2 linked regions of the Homo sapiens genome follow. The protein of the gene in region 2 purifies or fractionates together with the protein of the main gene of each other region. This does not show direct contact. Each region holds a gene or a part of one and is shown on either strand. Other genes may lie near its edges. The genes, in order: POC1A and MDM1.

What was found.
Region 1: the proteins of MDM1 (region 2) and POC1A purify together in Homo sapiens (affinity purification with mass spectrometry; 2 studies listed by BioGRID and IntAct, with this or other methods). This does not show direct contact.

Annotation. Positions count from the first base shown.
Region 1 is NC_000003.12:52,132,690-52,144,471, reverse strand, and holds part of POC1A (POC1 centriolar protein homolog A), read left to right. Parts: intron 1-6,169; coding exon 6,170-6,303; intron 6,304-11,782.
Region 2 is NC_000012.12:68,326,763-68,339,503, forward strand, and holds the start of MDM1 (nuclear protein MDM1), read right to left. Parts: upstream 5,601-12,741; 5' UTR 5,484-5,600; coding exon 5,466-5,483; exon of another isoform or gene 5,242-5,465; coding exon of another isoform or gene 5,239-5,241; intron 4,460-5,238; coding exon 4,345-4,459; intron 749-4,344; coding exon of another isoform or gene 672-748; exon of another isoform or gene 260-671; coding exon 1-259. UniProt on the Homo sapiens protein: Microtubule-binding protein that negatively regulates centriole duplication. Binds to and stabilizes microtubules.

The sequences.
Region 1 (11,782 bases), on a different chromosome or scaffold from region 2:
CCACCAGGTGGCAGGGGCCAGCCACAAGAACCTGTTCCCCCACCCCACCCCCCTCCATAGGAAGCCCTGAGGTTTGTTACCAATGCTCTTTCAGACAGAGGCTTCTGGAACAGAAGAGCAGTGGGGCTTGCCTCCACTTGGAGCCCATATCTTTCCTATCCTTCCTTCAGCCTTCTGCTCTGGGCCAGGCCTGAGTGAAGGGCTGGGGCTTGGGGATGGGGCACATCTGCCCAGCTGCCTGGGGAACGTGGGCAGGTGCAGAGGAGGGAGGACTTGGACAGGGAGAGATGGGAGTGGAAGGCGACGAGGCAGGACAGTGGTCAGGAGCACATGCTGTGGTTCCTTTCTGTAAAGGGGGTGGCAATAGGCCTTCCTCATGGCTTTGTGAGGCTCTGATGGGAAAAGCCACAAAAGGGTTATAACACAGGGCTAGGTATGTGGTTTGTGCTACATAAGTCCTGACACTGGGCAGAGAGGATGTCTAGGTGACCCTGGGAGGGTCCAGACCCATCTCTGATGGATCAGGAGCCTGGGCCTGGTGTTCATGGGTATAACAGCAGGTACCCCTTGGGAAGGGCCTTGGATGCCATCTCTGGCTCGGGGTCCCAAAGATGTGGCCTGATTGGCAGTGCTAGGACTAGCCTCGTCATTTAAGGTATGAAGGGAAGAAGGACATCTGAGAGGATAGCGGTGTCCAGAGCCTGCTGGGGTTGGGGGCTGGTGTGCCCCATGTGTCCCAGTGATGGGTAGGTGTCCAGCTGTGCCTGGTATCAAAGTAGGGGCTGGCATCAGAGTGGGGGATGGGTTGCAGAGGTTGAGTAGAAGCAGAGAAGCTGACCCTGTTGGGGTGGAGGGGCCAGCTGGACCCAGGGATCTGGGATGTGAGAATGGCTGAGGTCACATTCTGAGCCCCTATAATTGAGGGGCCACAGAAGATAAAGGTCCACAAAGCAGCCAGAGTGAGAGGTATGAACCCCGTCTCCAAGCATGGGAGAGCTGAGGAGGGCAGAGGCTGGGGAGTGAAGGAGAGTGGGGTCTTGTGAAGAGGGTTGTCAGGAGGTGGAGCAATGCAGAGCAGCCGAGGAGAGCGGTGGGTACTGGGGAGAGGGAGCTGGGGACCTGGAGGGAGCAGGCTTGGCAGAGGGCAGGGGCGGATCTCCATGATGGCAGGGTTGGGGAGGTGTGGATGGACTCAGATGAGCTCCAGGGGCTGAGTCCTGAGTGGAGCTGAGTGTGTGGGCTGACAGGCCCTGCTGGGAGATTGCAGTCTGCTTGTGCTTCTGGCCTTGCCTCTTATGACAGCCTCTCAGTGGGCCTGCAGTGTCTCATCCCTAAGCCACCCCTAGTGTAGATTGGAGGCTTAGCAGGATTTGGAGTACCCCATAAACACAGCCGGTTCCCCCTGAGCTCCCTGCTCAATGCCGTGGCCAGTGGTGGGTGTTCACAGGATAGCGGAGTCATCCCATAGCCTCTAGGCTGACCCTTAGGGGTGCAGTGAGCCAGGTTGATCTGAGCTCCCTGGGTAGGGGGAACATACCTCTCATCCTCTGCTGACGGGAGGACATGGCCAGGTCTGCTCTGGTCTTGGGGCTCCCCAGAAAACCTTTAGCTGAAACTAGGGGGAAACCCTCTACCCAAGTGGCTCCCCCACCCCCATAGGTGCAGTGGAATCTCTTTGGAGGCTCATTCCCCAGGAAGGGCTCCCAGTACTCTGGCAACAGATGCCTGATCCGCTTTCTGTCCCTGATCCCTAGGAAACCCAAGGGAAACCTACGGACACAGTGACGTGCAGTGTCTCCCCTAGTGACTCTGGATGGGCATCAGGCACTTCCAGAATGGCCTTCGGGTGTTGGACGCTGATGGGCTCTTGTGAGAGGATTTGGTTAATGATACTGCAGTGTGTGGCTAGCAAGCCCCAGCCTGCCTGCATCCAGCCGTCCATAGTTGTGCTCTATGAGGGCACTTCCTGTTCCTGCTAGGGTTGTTGGAGTTGAAGCCCACTTGGGGCTTTGGGCTATGGAGGCAGCTGGAGCCATTTGTCTTGCGCTGGCTGACTCTCCTAGGTAAGGAGTTTCTTGGCTCTGGCCTATCACTGCAGAGAGCAGTTCTGATTTCTCAATTCAGCAAGGATTTGGGCTGGTGGAGCCCTGGGAGTGCCAATCCCTGTGGTGGTGGGTTAGCTCCATATGCTCTGAGCCCACGTTAAGACTGTTCAGGCATCTGAGCAGCAGCCCCCATCCCAGAACCTGTAATGTGCTTCGTGCCTTACAGCACGTGCAGGTCCATTATCCAGTGACAGGCCTGGGTGGCCAGCAAAGTAGGTCTACCCTCCATTTCACAGATGCGGAGCATGCAGCCCACAGTCACACAGCTAGAAAGCTATGGGTCTGAGTCTCCACCTCAGGGCCTTTGAGTCTGGCATTCTGTTGACAGGCTCACGCTCGGTTCCTTGCACTTCGGTGACTCTAGTCATTTACTCTTCAGGCTCCCTGGGAGAGGTGGTCTCTTTGGCTGGCTGTCAGCAGGGCTTAGAACTCATAGAGTCCCAAGCTCTCTGTCCGATGGTCTTTAGTGCAGCCCTGCACCCCCGCCTGGCCTGATACATTGTCATGGAGGGTTTTGTCTTTTTTTTTTTCTCTTTCAGAGATGGGGTTGGGGTCTCACTGTATTTCCCAGGCTGGTCTTGAACTCCTGAGCTCAAGCAGTCCTCCCACCTCGGCCTCCCAAAGTGCTGGGATTACAGGCGTGAGTCACCATGCCCGGCCGGAGGGTTTTAAGTAGTTGCAGCTATCAGGGCAGGCCTGTACCCTGTACTGGGTGTTTTGAGACTAAAAGGGTTGATTGGGGTACAGTGGTGCTGTCCCACCTGATCTAGCCAACCTACTCTCCCACTGTCCTGAAGTGAGCATTTACACGGCATTTACACAGAGGAGTGTTTTGGGTGTCCTTTGCTGCTGGTATCAGAGCACTTTTGTGGTATGAATCCAAAGCCTCTTGTCAACCCAGAGCCACCGTGTCACTAGTAACATCAGTTGCGCATCGCAAGAGACCACCCTGGGGAAAATGAGCGGTCCTTTTGTGGAAGGATGTTGGGATGGGGCTTGGCCCTGGCATGGTCTCCTCTAGAGAGGAACCTCCTGCTTGGGCACCCAGGCTTTCTCTGGGCCCTTGGCTGGTTTGCAGCCCGTTAGGTAGTGGGCCTAGGTTTGCCCAAGCCTCTACAGGCAGAGCAGCATGGAGTGGGTGTACTCAGGTCTCTGCTTAGACCACCTACTGCCCACAAGCCATGACTAGTTCTTGGTATTTGGGAGCAGGGGCTGTGGTGGCCTCATCCCTGGGTCCCTGAGGATCTGTAGAAGTTTGATGTTGGTGTATCTTTGACCTGGAGTCAGAGTTCTCTCTTTGGAGTGGAGATGGGATAAGAGCCACAAGCTCACAGCTGCCACCCAGGTGGCAGTATGTGTCATCACTGATATCTGCCATGGAGCCAAGAAGAGGCCTGCGGCTTTGGACTTGAAAAAAAGTGGATCATGCTCAGACATTTGGCGCTCAAGGCATCATGATAGAAGGCTCATGCCCTCATGGGACAGCCTAGCCTTCGTGGTAGACTCTCATGCAGGGGTGGTTCTTACGATGAGGCCTCCATAGACTACCCGCTCCCCACCACCTCCACAGAGGCAAGAGGAGTGAGAGTGGAGGCTGGTGCGGCCAGTAGGTGAGGCAGGAGAGCAAGTGGGGAAAGGTGGGGTGGGTCCTGGTGTCTGGGGTATCCCCCAAAGCCTGGTATGCCAGGCCAGCCCCTCTTCTGGAGTAAATGGTTCTAGGTGTTTCTATCCAGGCTTGGGTATTCCTGGCATTTATGTGGAGTGGAGATTCTGTTGCCCTTCTTCTGGGAGAGATTCTTTCCCTTGGATGGGCTTGACCAGGTGGGGGCCCCTGGTGTGGCATCCATACACTGACCCTGCCACCTTGATGGTGCTGGGAAGCCCAGAGCTCCCTGAGCATGCCCTCCCTTCTGCACCCTCCTGCCACCGGCTGTTCCTCTGGCAGCTTCTGCTCATGGAGGGGTGGAGGTGGCCTTCATCCCAGTGCAGACTTTCTGGTGGGGGGGTCTCTGAATTCTGCCTCCAAGAGCTGGCTTCAGAGACCCCACTGGTCCCTCTCCAGCCTGCCTCCTGGAGATCCTGGCGCTTGGAGGGTGTTGTTGAGATATAAATATCATGTTACGTAAAGCCTTGGCTGTTTCCCCCTAAGTGTGCCTGGGAACACGTATCCAGACTCCCCGGCACATCGGCACATCAGCTGGGCTGGCATCTGAGGGACTGCGTGCACCCTGTGGGCCTTGTTGAGGGCCGTTTCGTGTTGGGTGTGTTTACCAACCCAGTAGTGGTTCTTACAGCCTTTCAGTGCTAAGATGACGGTTGGTTTTGAATCTGCCTTTATGTTGGTGGCAATTCTGACTTGGCAGGGTCATGGTTATTTTAGCCCCACTGGTTTTCCTCATTGGGCCTCTGGTAATGGGAAGAAAGACACTGGGGTTTTCCTCAGAAGGCACCCTAGGAGGCTGTGATACAGCTGATCCATGCATTGGCTGTGGAGTTGCTCTGTCCCCACGTAGACTGCCCAGGTGTGCCCCCAGCTTCACCTAGAACATGCTCTTGACCTTGAGGGAGAGTTGTGTAACCTGCTGGGGCTTCTGGATACCCAGCTTAAGCACCTGCTCACCAACCACTTTCTGAGTCCTGCTCGGTGCCAGGGACTTACCACCCCTGCCTGATGGAGTTCATGGTCTCATGGGAGATCCAGATGTGAGTCAGATAGTTGCATGTGAATGTGAAGAGTGAACCGATGGGAGGCTTGTGCTGCTTTGGAAGGACAAATGAAGGGGGTGGCCCTAATTGGGAGGCCAGGGGAGGCTTCCTGGAGAAGGCAGCTTCCAGTAATGAGCTTTAAGGTCAGGGAAAGGGAAGGGCAAGAGTCTCCCAGGCCCATTGGAAACAAGGGGTAAAAAAGTTCTACGGCTGGGGGAATCGACAGAGCTGGGGTGGCCGGCTCTTGGAGAGTGAGGGACACCAGAAAAGATGGTGGGGTTAGCCTGAGATGGTAGGGAAAAGAGAGTCATGGACAGGGCCAAGCTGTTGAGTGGGTGAAGTGGCAGGACCTTGAGTTGCATGGAACACAGGGGGCAAAGGAGAGGAACATCCATGTTGGCATTGGATGGCTCACTCTGCAAAGACCTCATGTGCTTAACTTAGTAGCATCCGCACAGTACCTCTTACACATAGGTGCTATGGTACAGATGGAGAAACTGAGGCTCAATGTGGTTAAGATGCTTGCTCAGGATGGATGTGGTGGCTCACGGCTGTAATCTCAGCACCTTGAGAGGCCGAGGCAGGTGGATCATCTGAGGTCAGGAGTTTGAGACCAGCCTGGTTAACATGGTGAAACCCCATCTCTACTAAAAATACAAAAATCAGCTGGACGTAGTGGCACACCTGTAGTCTCAGCTACTCAGGAGGCTGAGGCAGGAGAATCTCTTGAACCCAGGAGACGGAGGCTGCAGTGAGCTGAGGTCGCACCACTGCACTCCAGTCTGGGCGACAGAGTGAGACTCTGTCTCTCAAAAAACGTCATGGGGTGAGCCCAGGCAGGAGGCTTGGGGTCCGAATGCAGGCCTGACTGCTTCCTAAGAGTGTCTTAGCTTTCTGCTCGTCTGCCCCCACACACGTCCTTCCTGTGTGGCAGTGGCATTGTATTGACATTTGAAGGGTTTTGTTTTCCATTGGTTTCTTTAAAGAAAGAGTATATCGGGCAGACCAAAGGCTATGTTTGTATGTTTGAGTACTCTATTCTGCTCCAGCTTGACCGCTTGGTGCTGTGGGAGAGGATGGAGGAATCGTCTGCTGCCTCTGGTTTTTGCATCTGTTTCTGTCCGCCTGTCTTCCACTGCCTGCCCTTGGCTCTGAACAGGCCTTTTCCTGTTCTTCGATTGTGCCCCTCTCCTGGGAAATCCTTGTTGGGTTCCCCACAGCTCTTCTGAGCAATGACCATCCTGACCCAGCCCCATCAGGCCTGTGCTGAGCCTCGATTGGCCCTGATTGCCCGTCTTGGGCTTCAGCTGTGCTCCCTGTGCCTCCTAGCCAGCACCTGACTGATGTCCTTCCCCCAGTGCACAGTGCAGCAGTGAACGGGCTCTCTTTCCACCCGTCGGGAAACTACCTGATCACAGCCTCCAGTGACTCAACCCTGAAGATCCTGGACCTGATGGAGGGCCGGCTGCTCTACACACTCCACGGGCATCAGGTGAGAGGTGTCGGCCAGGTGCTGAGTGGTGTGGAGTGGTGGTACCTTCACTGTCTGGGCAGTGGGCAAGATGCAGAAACAGGCTTGTCACCCACACAGCCTGCAGGGAGATGGATGGAGGCATTTCCATGTGACCTGGGCAGATTGCTGGGCCTGGGACTGGTGCAGCTGAGAAGGGTATATAAGAGTTGAATTGGGCAAGGGTTGGGGGCTGCATCTGGGCATGGTTAGCAAGCCGCCCCTTAGGGGCCTGAATGGAATCTGTCCCCTAATGGCCTCAGCCATCCCTTGGTCCAGAGGTTGAGTTGAGCCTTGGAACCCATGCTCTGAGTTGACATCAGGGTTTCCTGGAGGCCCTCGGACTGGCAGACATCAGTGTGTCTAGAGACTGAGGCAACCTCAGGTGTCTTGCAGAGGCTGGGACAAAGAAGGGAAGTCTTCTTCATGTTTGTCGTTTGAGAATTCCTGGAATGGAATCAAGGAAGCAAAGGCCTCCTTTCTGAATGAGCTTCAAAGCAGCCGGTTCCCTGGTCTCCCTGGGTGGGCTGGGTCCCTGGGGGCCGGCTGTGGGAAGTAGGCCACATGCAGTTCTCCCCAGGAACTGGCCTGGGTCCGGGCCTTTCACATCTAGTACTTCCACTAGGAAGTAGTGTCCGAGCCCTCCTGATCAGAGCGGTCGTCAGAATGTCTCCTGTTGGGGCGTAGTCACCATGCCCACTTGAGATGGGAGGTCTGGAGTCCATTGAATTCAAGTCTGTCTCTAATCTGCCTGCCATGCTGAGGGAGGCCCTGGGGGTGCTTATGTGTCTTGGACTATCAGCTAAGTCTGAGGTGTCTAGCCTGGTGTTTTCTGAGCTGTTGTTTGGGTTTCCACTGCCATCTGAGTTAGGGTACCTGGGGGCCATTTGGCTATGACTAGGGGATGGGGACATAGGCCTTTTCTTCTACTTCCTCAAGGTCTGGAGGCTGCTTGCTGCCCCCAGCCTTGTTGTGACCCCTTGCCTTCCCTGTCAGAGACATATCCAGTGTGCAGGACTAGTGGGCCTGTTCTCCCTGGGCCAGCACATCCAGAGGGGGTGGCTGCTGGCCCTGGTGTAAGCCTGTTCACAAGCCAAGCCCCTGGACAAGCAAGTTATACAGATTCATGTGTAACCGTTTGGGATCTTATGCCCAGGAGGGCATTTGAAAATCATGTGAATGCTGCTACCGCTCCTGCTCCCCTAAAAAAAACAAAACAAAACTCAGAAACAGTTTGAAACAGATGCCTATCAAGTGATCACCTCTTTTTGTGAGTGTTCTTTAAACAGCTAACTCACGCTTAGCCTGAAAACACTTGAATGTGGGATCTAAAATGTCATTCCCGGTGTTCTGGCATCGCATCTGGCACATAAACGAAAGCTATTGACATTGTTCTCTCCGGGAAGTGAAGCAAGGACCATGGCGCATTGCCTTGTGTGGTCACTTGTCTGCTATTAAATCTAGAGATATGGGAACCAGGCCAAGGGACAGCTGATGGTTTGGGGTGTGGATAGGGCTGGGTCATTTCTTCTTCAGGGCACCAGGCTCACAATGCCCAGAGGAAAGGAGAAGAAGAGAAACGAACCAACGACCTCTGTTCATTTTGCCATCTGTCTGTTTGTTCATTCATCATCGGCTCTCTAGCTCACGGGGCTGGGCACCAGGGATAGGAAATGGATGTTATAGCTCTACTTCCTGGGCTTCCTGGCCTGGGAAGAGGGGGACTCCACAGGGAGGCTGACAGAGCTGAAGGCAGCATGAGACGAGTTAGGCTGGCTGAGAGGTAGACTGAGTCTTAGAGAGTACTTGGAGGGCAGGTGAAGGTGGGTAGGCCCTGCCCATCTCCCAGGGTACAGCTCAGATGAAGGTGGGAGTCAGCGTGTGAGGCTCAAATTATTTTCTTCTCCCAGCCCCCTAAACTCCCTATCAAATACAGGAACTTAGGATTGATTTACCACAAGTTTTAAGGGTTCTTTGTCCTGGGATACCGACGACACCCAGCCCCTCTGTGGGGTACTCCAGGTATCCAGGTGTAGGAACCCCTGGGCCTGGCTTGCTCAGGGTTCTGCAAACTGATTCAGGAAGACAAATTGCCCAGGGTCACCCTCTTTCCCCACCTCTGCACTTACTTTAATCCTTGCTCCTTTCTAGAGGCTGATTCTCTCCCATCCCTCCTCTTTAAGACCCATGGTGAGACCAACCATGCACTCCAACTGGTGGTGGCAAGTCAATACCGGGTTCTACAGCTGGCCTGGGTTGAAAGGTCCCGATGTGGACAAACCTGGCCTGATTCCTGCGCCCCTCCCACCTGCACTGTGGGGTTGCTGCCTTGAGAGGGCTTTCTTTTGGGGTCCTTACTAATGATGTGCAGCAGCATGATTGAAGAGCCAGGCTGAGGGCTGAGGTAGGGGTGTGAGTGTGTGAGTACGTATGGGGCAGGGATGCCCAGGAGAAGGCCTTACTTACTTCCAGCAAAGACCAGCTCACCTCCATACCACAGCCTGGCACCCCTGGGACCCAGGTCTGCCAGCGTTTGCTGTGGCTCCTTGTCATGCTTAGCTCTGCCCCTGGATTTGGAGTGATTCAGAATCAGCTAATGGGCCAGGTGTGGTAGCTCACTCCTGTCATCCCAGCACTTTCGGGGGAGGCTGAAGTGGGAAGATTGCTTGAGCCTGGGAAGCTGGGGCTGCAGTGATCTGTGATTGTGCCACTGTACTCCAGCCTGGGTGACAAAGCAAGACACTGTCTCAAAACAGAAAACCCCCCAAAAAACAGATTCAGCTAATGTTGGCTTCCCAAGGGAGCATAGTGCAATCGAGGAGCCTTAATTTGGGCATTTGGTTAAGATACGGGGTCCACTGGCTGGACAGAATACCTAGTGCTTATGGAGATCTGTGGCTAGGATCAGAGGTGGCTTTGCTCCAGCTGGGGGTAGAAATCCGTAGGGGCTGGGCCTGTGTTGTCACCCAACTGGTTCCGAGGATGTTCATTACTGATGAGGGCCTGGCTGGAGGCCACATCACAGGGGCCTGCTGACAAAGGGGCTGGGTTCTGCCTGGGCACTCTGCAGCAGGTATAGAGTCCTCATGGGCTCCCACTCACTCAGACCTTCGAGGAAGATGTGCAGCTGGTTCTTTGGTGACTTCATCTTTCACATTCTGTTCTGGGAGGTGGCGATGTGGTGGGGTCCTGGTGGCCAAGGGCCTGATGGAGCGCAGCTGCTATCAGCCACTTCCTGAATTGTGTGGCTGAGCAGCCTGGGGCTCCTGAGTGGGTCTTGGGTGCCTGGGGCTTCTGTCCTATGGATAAGGAGGATGGCAGATTGGAAAGCATTTTTTTTTTTTTTTTTTGAGTCCAGGTGGTGAAAATGAGAGCAGTCTGGATTAGTAGGGGGTCTTATGACTTCTAGTGTGCCAGAGCTGGGACAAGTACCTGTGTCTATGCAGTTTCTATCACATGTACATGTGACTTTTAAAATTCTATTTGTAATTTCACTCTTGTTTCTTTCATTCATTCATTCAGAGACAGTTTCGCCCTGTCGCCCAGGCTGGAGTGCAGTGGTGCGATCTCAGCTCACTGCAACCTCCATCTCCTGGGTTCAAGCGATTCTCCTGCCTCAGCCTCCCTAGTAGCTGGGATTACAGGCACCCGCCACCACACCCGGCTAATTTTTGTATTTTTAGTAGAGACGGGGTTTCACCGTGTTGGCCAGGCTGGTCTCAAACTCCTGACCTCAGGTGATCCACCTGCCTCAGCCTCCCAAAGTGCTGGAATTAGAGGCCTGAGCCACTGCATCCAGCCTTCTTGTTTTTATTTACTTATTTATCTTTACTGGGGTAACATATGTGTATAATTCACCATCTTTACCATTTTTAAATGTACAGTTCAGTGGTAATAAATACATTTATATTCTCTTTTTTTTAACCCCTTCATTCCCTGGCTCCCCTTCCCCATCCCAGCCCTGGTAACCACCACTCTACTCCATCTTCATGAGATCCATGTAACTCCCACGGATGTCACTCTTGTGTTTAGCTCACAGGTCTAGGTAGGGTACCAGCAGGCTTATGTCGGCTTGTGTCCCCATCTTGCTGCTACATGACCCCATTCTGATCCAACAGAAGGGAGCCCCATGAAACTTTGGTTTGGACGCAGGGGACCTGCTGTGTCCTCAGAGATGGCTTGGGAGAGCTGCGAGAGAGAGGGCTACTGCATCTTAGGGCCAGTGGGACAGCTTCCATTTCTGCATCTGAGAAGTGGACAGTGCAGGCTGGGGGTGAGCAGCAGTGAGGTCAGCCACAGGGAGCTGCTGTGGGATGAGGCAGACCTTGACCTGGGCATGGGGGCTCTGCGGGTGCCAGGAGAAGGGCCCCAGCAAGCCCTCTGGGGAAACCGTGGGGGAGGTTTGGGGTAGAAAAAGGAGGGTCAGGGTGCAGTGCTGTTGGGCTGCAACTCTATTGTCTGAGTTGAGGCCAAACTCACCCTGATTTACCTTTCAGTTGTCTCCTAAGGTACAAGGAGCGCCAGGACAGAGGGACTTGCCAAGTGCCAGCTAAGATGAGTATCACCCAGTGTAGCCCTGGGTCTCCTGGGCTGGACCTGTGTGCTGGTGTTGAGGGCAGGTTATCAGCCAGGAGTCAGCGTGCGGGTGGTTTGGTAGCTCTCTGGCACATGAGTGGCACACATCGGCCCATTTGAGAGGCCTTTTGTTTGCGCAGGCTCATTTTGTGAGAGTAAGGGGTTATCTTAGTCTGTTCTGTGCTGTTGTAATAAAATACCGGAGACTGGGTAACTTATCAAGAACAGAAAGTTATTTCTCAGTTCCAGATGCTGGAAGTCCCAGATCAAGGTACTAGCGTTGGGGAAGGCTGCCCTCTGCTTCCGAGATGGGGCTTGAATGCTGCATCCTCTGAGGGGAGTAACACTGTCCTCACATGCAGAAGGTGGAAGGGCGGAAAGGACCAAACTCCCTTTGTCAAGCCCTTTCATAAGTGCACCTAATCCCCTTCATGAGGGCGGAGCCCTTGTGACTCAATCACTTCCCAAAGGCCACACCTCCCAACACTGTTACCTTGGGGATTCAATTTCTTTCTTTCTTTTTTTTTTTTGAGATGGAGTCTCACTCTGTTGCCCAGGCTGGAGTGCAGTGGCGTGAACTCGGCTCACTGCAACCTCCGTCTCCCAGGTTCAAACAATCCTCCCACCTCAGCCTCCCGAGTAGTTGGGATTACACGTGCACGCCACCATGCCCGGCTAATTTTTTGCGTTTTTAGTAGAGACAGGGTTTCACCATGTTGGCCAGGCTGGTCTCGAACTCCTGACCTCAAGTGATCTGCCTTCCTTGGTCTCCCAAAGTGCTGGGATTACAGGCGTGAGCCACCACGCCTGGCTGGGGATTCAATTTCAGTATCAATTTTGTTGGGGACAAAAACATTCACACCATAGCAGGGGTGGATGTTGGTTA
Region 2 (12,741 bases):
GCCCCTTCAGCTCTGGAGTCTGCAGAGTGAGATCTGGTTCTTTTGGGAACCCTGGAAGCTTCTAGTGAGTGAACTCTTTCTTGAGTAACATCCTTTTGTTCTGCTTCTTGTGATTTTGGTGTTTCCGGGGCTTCTGGTTCTGGTGATGCAACCACATTGCTCTCTGAGATAGCTCCATTCCACTCCAGAGATTTTGAAATCTGTGGGTCATGGTAAGGGACTCTTCTTTTTGAAATAAAACTTGGCTCTTTCGTGATGCCTACAAAACACGGTATACAAAAATAGTAGCTACTAAAGCAAAAAGTTACAAAGACAACTTTTAAGAACACTTGTGGAGGAGAAATGAAATTTTAAATTTAGTTCAGATATATGTACCTATATATACACACAATATCCTTCAGATTATAGGATTTTAAAAGTACAGCTTTTCAACATAAAATATTTAATTTTGCTTTTAAAAGCATTAAAAATTTGACCATAACAAAAAATTAAAAATCAGGGGGTCACAAAATGTTCCAGTTATCCTAACAAAAGTCACTAGAATTGCAACGTGATAGACCTGGCAGGCCAGGCAGTACATGCTGCCTCGTTTCTAATTACTTTCCTGTGCTACTTAACAGAACAATGGGCCCTGGTACTGTCAAAATTTGGAACTTTTCACAAAGCTTCTCTTATGTGGAGCAGACCAAGATGAGAAGGGATGAGATGTCACTGTGCTGGATCTTGGTTCTACATCTGCCTTGATTTCCTGAGAATTAAAAAAGAATAAGCCCTTTTAACAACAGCTAAGATACAATTTCTCTATATTTCTGTATGGAAAGCAAATGTCCAAAAACTTAACCTTCTATGAAGGTAAGAGCAGCTCTGCAGAATGACAGCCACTGAGAGACTGCCCTAGTTTAGGGCCATTCTTTAAGACAGTTGCAGGGTGCAGAAGGAAGATTAAGACCAGAATGGAAAGGGAAGGTGGAAAGAAAATTGGGCATGAGGTAAAACCCAGGGCTCCTTAGCCTCTGTTGTAGATGTCTTGGCCATGTCACCCCGGGTCCTTATCCTTTTAAAAGGCTTCCCTAGACCACAGGTCTTCTCACTGGGTGGATATCTGTCTGGAGGCACACAAAGATGTTTTAGGAGGGTAAACAGAAGTGGGCAGCTTAAGGGAATCATTTTCCAGATCCTCAACTCCACATGTGCTCTCTTGCCTGATGCTGATATATCTGCCTGAGAGCTGCATCTGCCATCTGCAGTTCCATTTCCCACCGCCCCTTTCATAATCTCCTTTTTCCCACTTTAGAGAAGAAAGACACACCTCTTAACCAGCCTGAAACTTACTCCAGTGCGTCCGCCCAAGGTAGAACAAAACCTCAGGGGTAGGGAGCCAAACAAAGGGACAATTCAAGAAAGCATATCCCTGAGGGAGAATATTTGACAGCAAAACAAAGCAGGCAGAGATTAGAAATAACAAAGCAACAGCATCTTATTTCATATAGCTCCATGGATTTTCCATCTACCTTCTCAGTATTAAAATTCAGATATGAGAGGGATGTCATGTGAAATGTACATATGCATATAACACATTTACCTTAATTAAAGATAAACAGACTTTCTCACAGAAAATAATTCTAATTTGGCCGGTTAGTTTGCCAATGAATACTGACTTTGCCAATTGTATGATAAACATTTTCCAAAAATTGAATGGGCTAAATTGGCAACTCCAGAGTTTTTACAAAATATATGTAAAATATATAAGCACTATGCAATATACCAGAAATTCTATCATTCAAAACTATTCATAAAAATTTATTATAAAAAATAGCAATTTAGAAATGTGTGACGAAGCACAATGTTTTTCTAAATTTTTCTAGGAAGTATAAAAGCAAAAAAGCTTGAAGATCACCAATTAGACTCCTCTCTGCTTTAACACAGAGGCAGGTTTTTGGTAGAAGCACAAAATGAAAGAAGATTCTCAAGTGGTCTGCCGCTGTCTCCCAGCACCAGCAAATCCCCAGGGTAAAAATACACTACTCTAAAAGAAGGGACAGCCATCCTCGGTAACACTGCTGTTGTTTTTTGCTAACCTCCCACCTCCCATTCTGAGCATTCTGGAATTCTTGCTCAGTCCCTCCCCATGACCTAAAATTCCCCACTAACGTTCCTCCCCTAGTCCATTCCTTCCTTCATTATATACCATGCTCTAAGGTGGCTTTGCTCTCATGGTCTCATTTCATCACCTTCCCCTCAAATGCAGCTGATCTAAGCTGAAATGTTATTGGACAACTACCCAGTTTAATGAATTTTCCAGTGTCATAATAGCCCTGTAGGCGCTCAGCAGGGTGGGATATCTATGCTTAAACAGAGATTTATTTGGATTCTTAATCTAATGGAGGTTCAAATATGTGGAATTTCTGGTCATTTGTAAAAAGAGGATTATGAGCAGAGGGATTTTCCTAGCACCCTGCCGGAGAAGCAGGGACACCCAGTCTCTGAAGTTTGCCGCTGGGTCAGATCATGATGCTTCAGAGGAACTCTAAAAGAGACACTCACTCTTGCCCACTCTTCCCTTTGTTCTCTAGACCAAATTCTGAAAATACCTCGTCGTCTTACTAACTTTCCAGGCTTGGTACCCTACCCATAAGTCTTTTCCTGGCTTCAAACATCTAACATTTATGTGACTTACATGCCATGCTCGCACACATCACATGTGGGACACTAAGCACTGATCTGTGTACTCAAACCAGGCCCTTAATAGGCAACATCTCATTTAAACCCTCCCAGTAATCCTATGCAACAGACTTCCTAAAATCTCACTTGGTGAAACTAGCTCAATTTGCCCAACATCACACAGCTATTATAATTCAAATTTAGGCTAATTCATTCATTCAAAAAATAGTTTCAAGAAGCAATAGAATGTTCCAAGGCCTGTGTTAGGTACTGGGTGGTGAATAAGACAGAGCCCTACTCTCAGAGATCTAATATACTAGTAAGGAAGAATTAAATAAGCAGGTATAATGAGGTCAGTCTGTCTCCCTTCTGTTCTATCACCCTCCGGGAAACTCTGGCCCAGGACTCTGCCTTCCCTGGGACACAGGGAGGAGGCATGTGTGATAACAAGAACATGACCTCTGAAATTACATGCTTTGCACAAAACAGACTTGATTTCAAATCATGGTTCTGCCACTTACTAGCTGTAAAGCTGGGGCAGCGACCTCATCTCCCTAAGCTTCCATTTCTCAAGACCTTGGGAGCACTCTTCCCCAGCATTGTCCCCTCAGCTTTCAGGTCTCAGCTCAAATATCACCTCCTCAAAAAGAGCCTTTCCCAACCATCTAATCTAAAGCATTTTCCCTCCAATCCACTCCTCCCGCATGTTATGTATCACACTTCCCTACAATTTTATATAAAAACCTGAAATTCCCTTAATTATTGAGTGACTTGCTTACTGTTTCTCTCCACAGTTAAGGGACTTTGGTTCAGGGCTATATCCCTAGTGTTCCCAGACCAAACTGAGGGTCAGGCTGCTATTTCTCTCGGCCAATAACGAGATGCAGATAAACTAGGGAGAAAGAGAGTTTTTATTTCTATAACCAGTTACGGGAAGAAGGCCTGCAAATTATCACCAGACGAACCCCAAATTACAAAGTTTTTCAGAGCTTATATACCTTCTAAGCTATATGTCTACGTGTAAGTGTGCATTCATCTAAGGATATAAGTGATTAACTTCTTTTAATCTATAACTAAGGTCTGAGTCCTGAAGACCTTCTTCTGGAGCATCAGTAAATTTACTTAATCTAAATGGGTCTAGGTGCTGGGCTGATTACCCTTATCTTGTCTCCTGCTGAATCATGGAGGTTTGAGGAGTTCCTTCAGACCGCCAATAAATTTGTGGAGGCCTGGGGAGTTTCTTCAGACCCCCAGTAAAACTTGTTTAATCCTAAACGGATCCTGTTAAGAATTCCTTATTTTGTCATGCTTTATGGCCCAGGAAAGGCCTAGGCAATACTCTTGATGGGCTTTTGTGACATCCCAGCCTTTGTGTAAGGGCACTGGCTTTTTTTAGCTTTCAATATTTAACTTAACCGCTCAGTCAGTACCGAAACAGTTGTGATGGAGGCCTCCATTAGTGAAACCTGGCCTGCCACACTAGCTGCTGGGAATAGTCCTGGCTCATAGTAAACCTTCAATAAATACTTGATTAATAAATGAATAAATCAACCAGGCCAACTGAACTTTTAATATATCATTTGGTAAACTTAGCCCAAGGTTTACTTAGCCCAAGTTATAACGGCTTGGCCCAAGTTATAAACTTAGCCCAGGTTAGAATGGCTATTAGCCTGCTCAACTTACCTAATTGATCTGATCTAAGTCCAGCCCATGGGTACTTTCGCCCCACGGAGGAATTACAAGACTCGGACAAATAAGACTTTTTCCACAGGAAGTTCCTCTGGTATTCACTCAGCCCCTGTAATGCAAAGTACACTTTTGAGTACAGTCCAATTAATGAATGATGTTTTAAAGCAGACATCGGTGAAAAATAATTTCTGAACCTCCCAAAAGAGACTTAAGACTGAAAATTAAACACAGACGAGCTCCTTAATAAGAGCTAATATTCACCCAGCCCTGTGCTAAGCAGTTCACACGTGTTATATCCTTTAATCCACAACACCACTTGAGGCAGATGCTACCAGGAATTCCAGGCTCAGAGGTTACCCTTTCACTGATTATCTGATTCCAAAGCATGAGTTCTTGTCGGATAACTAATGACAATCTAAATTCTCATCATTCTAGATTTATCGCAGGTTTTCACCGAGTACACAATATTATGTACCATGCCTAGGACCTTTTGCTATTTGATAAAGTCAACAAAAGGCAAACTCCCCTTCCATTCTGAATACACGCCTTTAAGATAAATGAGTCAGGAGATGTGGGACGCTGTGGCCACCTGTGAAGTTGCAGGGTGCTAGTCCCTGACAGCTACCAGCTACCTGGAACTTTTAACATACGCTAAGAATGCACAACGATGAAAAACGTGTATTTCTTTATACGCTGTCTTTACTAAGAACCCATTTCTCAAGCCTTTAAAAGCCACATACACTAAAGTTTTAAAGGTAATGGGGGTTAAATGCTAAGCTAAATGGGCCACAGGTGTCCCAATCTGAAGTCGCCTTTAGTTCTCTTCGCAAAGGGACCTCCTCCCATCTCCACTCCTCTTGAGTCCCCCTAAGTAAATGTGTCTCGCACCATCTGACTCTTCGACACACTGCAGCTTGCAAATGTGAGTGAGCGGAGAGGGAACTAGGTTAAGAGGCGGCGGGCAGATTCTGGGGCCCCTCGAGCAGGCCCTGGGGCTGGCAGCTTCCGCCGGGCAGAGGGCTGCAGCGCAGAAAAGCAGCGTGACCTCGGCGCTCCACACCTCCCCGGCCATGGCTCCCCCCAGCCACATTCCGGCCCGGGGACCCCAGCCTCACCTTGAAGCGCACCGGCATGTCGCCCGGCGCCGGAGCCCCCGCTACTCCGACAGTTAACTGGAGAAAAAGCTCCGAGGGGGCGGGGCGATAACAGTGTTCCCTAGCAAAGCCTCGGCCCGGCGTCCCCGACTACGCGCCGGCGCACTCCGCGCTTCCCGCCTAGAGGCCTGTCGGTCTGTTTTTCCCCGCCCTTTTTGGAGCCTAGGGACCAATAGAGACTCGCAGAGTGCCTTACCTCCATTAGGATTTGACCAATGAGTGGCCGAAAGGGAGCCGCCTACCTCCCTTGCCAAATCCCTGGGGCTGATAGAGATGGCGGGCGGAAGGCCGGCCAATAAGGCTCCCGGAACCGGGCTGGGCGGGACCCCGGGGGTGCCTTCCTGGGTTGGGTGGACCGGTCCCTGGTTCGCCGGGTCCTGCGCAGCAATGCGTCTGCTTGCTGGTGGAATTCGCCAGCCGCCAGCCTCGCTGGCCCAGGTGCTTGACAGCATCAAAGGTCAAAGTGTGTTCTTCATGCTAACATCTATGAGAAAACCGAACGCTTCTTTTTCTGAAAGTGCTCAGATTTATTCTGCTGAATATCGGTTCGTACAAACGACAGCCGCATTACAGTTTATTGTCACATCAAAAGGGAAAGGCCAAAAAAATATATAACTTAGGCAAGATTTTTGAAACTTTATTGAAACTCGAAAGACAAACTGCTGTCTCTTCCTCCAGTGATGTTCTTCCTCCTTCAATCTCTACCTTCCCCAAAATGATGTACATACAGCCCTTAGATGAGAAAACGTTTATTGAAGATGGTTGTCTCAACTTCCAAACCTTCAGCCTTGTCTCTCCGCTCAACCTTTTTTTAAAAATAAAACTTCATCTGATTTTAATCGACTATTGCCATCATCGTCGATAAATGTTTCTTGACAGAATACTGCTGATTCTGAGAATTGGGAAAGAAAGAAATTGTCCAGATAGTTCTCTGATATACTTGGGAAGGACATACATCTTTATTTATTTATTTATTCATTATTTATTCAATAATGGTGTAATGTGACATGTGCTAAATTTCTAAATGAAAGGTGTCAATAATAAGGGCTACAGGATCTGGGAGCAGGGAGTCATTTCGGACGGCAGAAGATGCGTCAGGAGGAAATATTCAGACTGAAAGGACTGCAATAAGTAAAAAGTGGGACGATGAAAGGGCAGATGTCTGAATGGAATGCTGCCAGGCTTCTTCCAGGAACAACAAATGAGTGCCTTTTACATTTGTCATGTGTTGACTGAATAAAAGTATACCACTCTTAAACTTTCAAATATCAACACCAATCCTTGATGCTTCCCTTTAAGCATTTTCCGCAAAAGCTGTCTTCCTGAATCCTGATTGATGTCTTTGTTCTTCATCATCATCGAGATACTTAAAAATCATTTGAAGAAGCCACCTGATATCTGGAACAAAGAGCATATTAAATTAGTCCCAATGCAGCCATGCATCCAGGGGGCCCTTGATTAATGTTAATTGGTGATGACAGCATCTCTGTCGTGTAAATTAAGAATGGCACAAACAAGACACAGTGGAACATAGAACAAAAGTCATCTGCAGGAAGGCAGCCCATCTTACAGAGTAAGAAAGGCACAACTTTGGTTGTGCACACAGCTTTGTTACCACAAAATGCTAAGGTGAGATCAGCAAAAGCAAGTGTGTAGAATGTAGCCTGCCTGCTAAACAAGCGCAATGATCACTGCAGAAGAGCTCTGCTGAGCAGGGAGTAAATGACAGGAAAACCAAACAGCAGATTGTAAAAATAACTCAGTCACATCCCAGGCTTGCTAGAGAAGTATCATAAAGACTTAAGGAAGAAGATTTTACTTTGCTATTGTTAAACAAAAGCCTACCCAAGTTTAAGAGGCAAAGATATAGGAATGGGAAAAAAAAAAGTGACTACCTTAGTAAATGAGTTTTGTAGCCTGTGTTTTACCAGCTCTTATCTTCTCTGCTACTGCAGGAAACAGTACCCAGTACCCTACAAAGCTCCACCCATGTTTTGGGGAGTCCCTAGGAGGTATTTCACATGTGCTCGCAGCAACCACATAGCGTATGCCGGGCAGCACTGCCCCTTGTTCCAATAGCCATGCATCTGTAGGTGTCACTCTTGCTGCTGGCTATCACAGCCACTTTAGCTTGGTACTGAGTCTTCACTGGGCACAGCAACTGGGTACAGCCACTCCTCAAACTGCCTGGCATTGGTGGTAATCTATGGCAAAGCACCTCTCCTTTTTGCGTTACCCTCTTTGAAGTGAGTAACACTATGTCTTAGAGAGCCTTCTTTTCATTTGTGTTTTAGCCTTTCTCATCGCCAAAGGGCTCAAAATGAAGTCCGTGGAGTCTAAGCCAAAAAGTAATTCCTCAAGTGACAGATCTCATGCTATGCTTCTCTCTTCCACTAGCTAAGGCCCTCTTACTGGGACAGTGGTATCACACCTGGCTCACTCTTCCCTTTGTTGATTTCTCTATTTCTCATAGGAATAGATTTCTGTCTATTGCTCGTGAGAGACTGAATTTGCACAACCTATATGAAGGGCATTTTGGCAATTTGATCCAGGAGTTCCTCTTCTATAAATTTATCTTACAGATAGACTCACACATATGTGAAAAAAAATATTCATTTAAAGTTGTTTAATGTACTGTTTCTAGTTACAAAAGGTTGAAAACTACCTAAATGTCCATTTAGAGAGAACTAGTCAAATACATTACGGTTCATCCAAATTCAAAGAGTAGCGCAGGTTGTTCTGCTCCTTTGGGCCTTCTGATCCTGCATGGATATGTTAGGTCCAGCTAGGAAAACAGACCCTACACAAGGCATTTCAACAAAGAGAACTTAATATAAGCTATTGGTTCATTAGCTATTGAAGAACTTAAAGCCAAAAGGATAAAGAAGAGGAACTCCAGGAAGCAGCTCATACTGTAAGGCTGAGAGAACAAAAGGAAAATGTTGAGGTTACTAGAATGCGGAGGTTTGTAGGAGAGGCCTCCTGGAGTTGGTCAGACCGCTGAGAAAGGGCCACTGCCCCACTGGTGGGGTGCCTCTGAGGGGACAAAATGAGACTCTCTGGGAACGTCTGGAAAAGAGACAAGCTGGAGACTGCAATGAACTGCCACTGTGGGGTAGAAGATCACTGTTCAGGTGCTGCGGGGAGGAACAGCAAACAAAACAGAGCATCCCAGTCTTTCCCTAGCTTCCTTTCTTGGCAAACATAACAGGGAGCTGGCCATGTGATTTGCACAGTCTGAAGGGTGAGACTGGAACTGACATGCAACAGCTTATTAACTTGCACACTTCCATACAACCCCTAACAAGCAAGAAGCACCTCTTTATGAGCTAACATAGAAGACTCTCAAAGAAAAGAAGCAAGGCTTAGAAGACTGTTTATGGTATACCATCAGTTGAAATAAAAGAAAGACGAGTGAATAAAAGAAAAAAAAAACTGTCCTATGATGTCGCATAATGATGTCATTCACAGGCACTTTCTCCCTCACTCATGAGTCCAACTCCATTAGCGGCAGCTATAAAGAAAAGAGCATTTTATTCAGTTTACTGGTAAGATATGGAAACTTTAAGTTATTGATAGTTACCACTGAGGCTATTTTCCTTAAATAAAATAACTCCATTGGCCCTTTCTAGATTTATCTTGACATATACCTCACGATAAGGCTGTTGCTCCTTTTAGAGACAAAAACATATCAAAATCCTTTGAGGCAAATTTTATTTGCACTTGAAATATAAAATATTCTCATCTACTACTCATTCTATTAAAAAAGGAAGTTGACCACTTCACAAATTAATAATCTCCTATCATTTTCTCAGTAGCAGTTGAAACAGTGAAGAATTTGTATTTGCCTCTAACTATATTTATTTTTATTTAACAAAAGAAAAGTGTATATGAGCAAACACATCAGACGAGGGTTGAAGAAGGGAGGTACAAAGATGAATAAGACATAGCCCCTGTCTTCAAATATAATTATAATCTTCTAATGGGGGATCAATAAGTACACAAAGAACACAGAAAATAAAAAGAAAGGAGAAAGTGAGAAAGGGGCTAAATGTGAGCACCTTGGTATTCTAAAGATGCTTTTAAACCTGGAGCCAGAAAGTTTGATCTAAGATAGACTATTAAAGAGCAGGCAGGATAAAGGAGCTGAATTTAAATTCCATCCTGGGAAACACCTGATCTAGAGACCTTTCACTTTTTTTGTTCTGCCCTGGGTAGCTGAATCCAAGCCAGATGTTCCTTGAGAAGTTTCAACTAACATTGCTGAAGATCGGTTCCCAAAAAGGTGAATTACTTGCTTTCTGTTGTCTTTTTTTTTCTTGTTGCTTCGGAAATCAGTAAAGCTGTTTTAGAAACTACTATTTTATCAATATAGTGATACACAGCCTTGTGTTTACATATATGTAATTTTCTCTGAAATACCTTACAAGGTAACTGAAATGCCAGTCTTTGGGCTTAGTAATGCTCTTTAGCTCTGTTAACATTCTCTCAGGTCACATTTAATTGGGCTTTCATTGGTAAATCTTGAGCTCAGCCTTTGCCAAAAAGCAATCAGTCTGACAACCGCTTTCTTTTGCATTTTTCCATAGGTATTAGCTGATTTTTCCTCCTATGAATGAATTTCTGATTGCACAACTAAAAAAAATGACAATTAAATCCATGGATTCTGTCTGAGAAGCAAAATTGCTGATACTTCACATTAATGTCAGTAAGAATCGAATAAATAGGTTCTATGATTAAGACTTAGCAATGAGCCAAGTGCAATTTGCCCTCCAGACTTTTAGCCGTGAGATGCCTTTGTTGACAAGGGAGTGTCTGGCTTTTGAATCAGTGGGGCACCTTTTGGAGGGACTCCAGGTTCTCTTGACAACAGGACTTTTTTTTTTTCTCTCTTTTTGGTGAGCCGAAAGGACTCCTCACCATACAAGGCCACGGCTGAGTAAAGTAATTCTCAGTAAGGCATAAACCACTGGCAAGCCTCACATACCATAATAATAATGTTGTACTGCAGCTGCACAAGGTCCAGGGAATACATTTGGGGCACAAAATTTCTTTCATTTTAATACCTTCACTGTATGATTCTGTTCTAAGAATTCCCTTTCCTTTTCTTCATTGATTATTTATTGTCCTAAATCACCATCTCTTTGAAAAGTCCTCACAGGGACGCAGATATTTTCCAGAATTGCTAATTGCTGATTTGAAAGCATGAATTCTCTCATCTCATCAAATCGGATTCTGTGTCTTAAGGTCAGATCAGCCTTTCTAAGAATCTTGTAAATCTCTACCTTTATGCCAAAATAAATTTTGAAATATTTCTTTTATCACGGGTAATGTACATGCACCTGTAATCCCAGCACTTTGGGAGGCTGAGGCGGGCGGATCATGAGGTCAGGAGTTTGAGACCAGCCTGGCCAATTTGGTGAAACCCCTTCTGTACTAAAAATACAAAAATTAGCCGGGCATGGTGGCACACGCCTGTAAGTTTCAGCTACTCGGGAGGCTGAGGCAGAAGAACCGCTTGAACCCAGGAGGCAGAGATTGCAGTGTGCCGAGATTGCACCACTGTACTCCAGCCTGGGTGACAGAGCGAGACTCCATCTCGAATAAATAAATAAATAAATAAAATAACTGCAGATTAAGTCCAGATTGCTACTATTATTCTTTCTGAAATCGCCAGTCTTTCTACTGATAATGGTATCTGAAGTATCAATAAGGGACCAAAAATTTTTCAGAACATAAAGTCAGTTTCCTCTCCTTTGTGGCTTATAATTGTTGACTCCCTTAAGAGATTTTTATCTCTTAAGGCCTGGCACGGTGGCTCATGCCTGTCATCCCAGCACTTTGGGAGGCCAAAGCAGGCGGATCACAAGGTCAGGAGTTCGAGACCAGCCTGGCCAACAAGATGAAACCCCGTCTCTACTAAAAATACAAAAATTTTCCGGGTGTGGTGGCGCACACCCATAATCCCAGCTACTCAGGAGGCTGAGGCAGGAGAATTGCTTAAACCCGGGAGGTGGAGATTGCAGTGAGCTGAGATCGCACCACTGCACTCCAGCCTGGGCAACAGAGCGAGACTCCATCTCAAAAAAAAAAAAAGATTTTTACATGTATTTTGCTGGAGCAATTAGTATAAAATCTTAGTATCGTGTTATTCAATTCATCCTTCAACCTCTCAACTTCTATTAATTGAATGAATGATGGTTGACAGTGTAGCATGATATGTCCAAATGTAAAACACTGAATATATAAATATGTTGTTTTAGTATCATTGAGCACTATCTATGGAATAAGTTTCAGGAATCGTATGTATTTTAGTTAATCATGCTGTGGTGATGCTGAGACTGACTCATTCCAAATTCATGCCAACCTCCTTCTCCTACTGCAGAAGCTGGAAAACTAAAAACCCCTTTGACCTTAGACCCCTTTGCAACTGAAGTGTGGGTATAATTTACATTCTGCTGATCAGAAGCACTTGCATAAACTGAGTTAGATGGGAAAAAAGCAGAGCACAGGTTTGCATTGCTGTAAATCATGACAGTAGCAGCAACAGCAGCGTAGTTCTGGAGTTGGCAGCTCTACCAGCAGCTTCCTGGTCATAGCAGAGGTGAAGTCGGAGCTTGTAGCAAAGGTGTCTCAACTTAGCAGGCAGATTCTTGGTTCCACGACTTCCTGACTGTAGGCTCCTTTAGTGAGTCTGTTCTGTGATGTGGCCCTAGAGTCTACTTCTTCAGCTCTCATAATGATTCTTTAAGCCACTTGTATCAATCGTCGGTTGCCACAATAATGCTGCATAACAAACACTCTCAAATGCAGCAACTTAAAATAATAACCATTTATTATTGCTTATGAATCTCTGGGTCAGTTGGCCAGTTCTGCTGATGTAGGTTGAGCTTAGCTAATCCCACTAAGCCTGCTTGTGGATTTGTGGCCAGCTGATGGGTTAGCTAGAAATTGGCTGGTCTCAGATGGCTTCAGCTAGGACAACTCCTCATCGTTCCACTTGGGCTCTCATCTTCTAGCAGGATAGCCTGGATTGTTTTCATGGAAAAGGAAAGATTCCAAAAGGAATCCAAAGTACGGAGGATTCCAAAGTATGTGAAGCCTCTTGAGGACTTGGCTTCGAAACAGCATACCATCACCTCTACCATATTTTGTTAGCCAAAGCAGATTAAAAGGCCATCCCAGATTCAAGGGCTAGGGAAATAGACTCAACCCCTTCACGGAAGGAGTGGCAGAG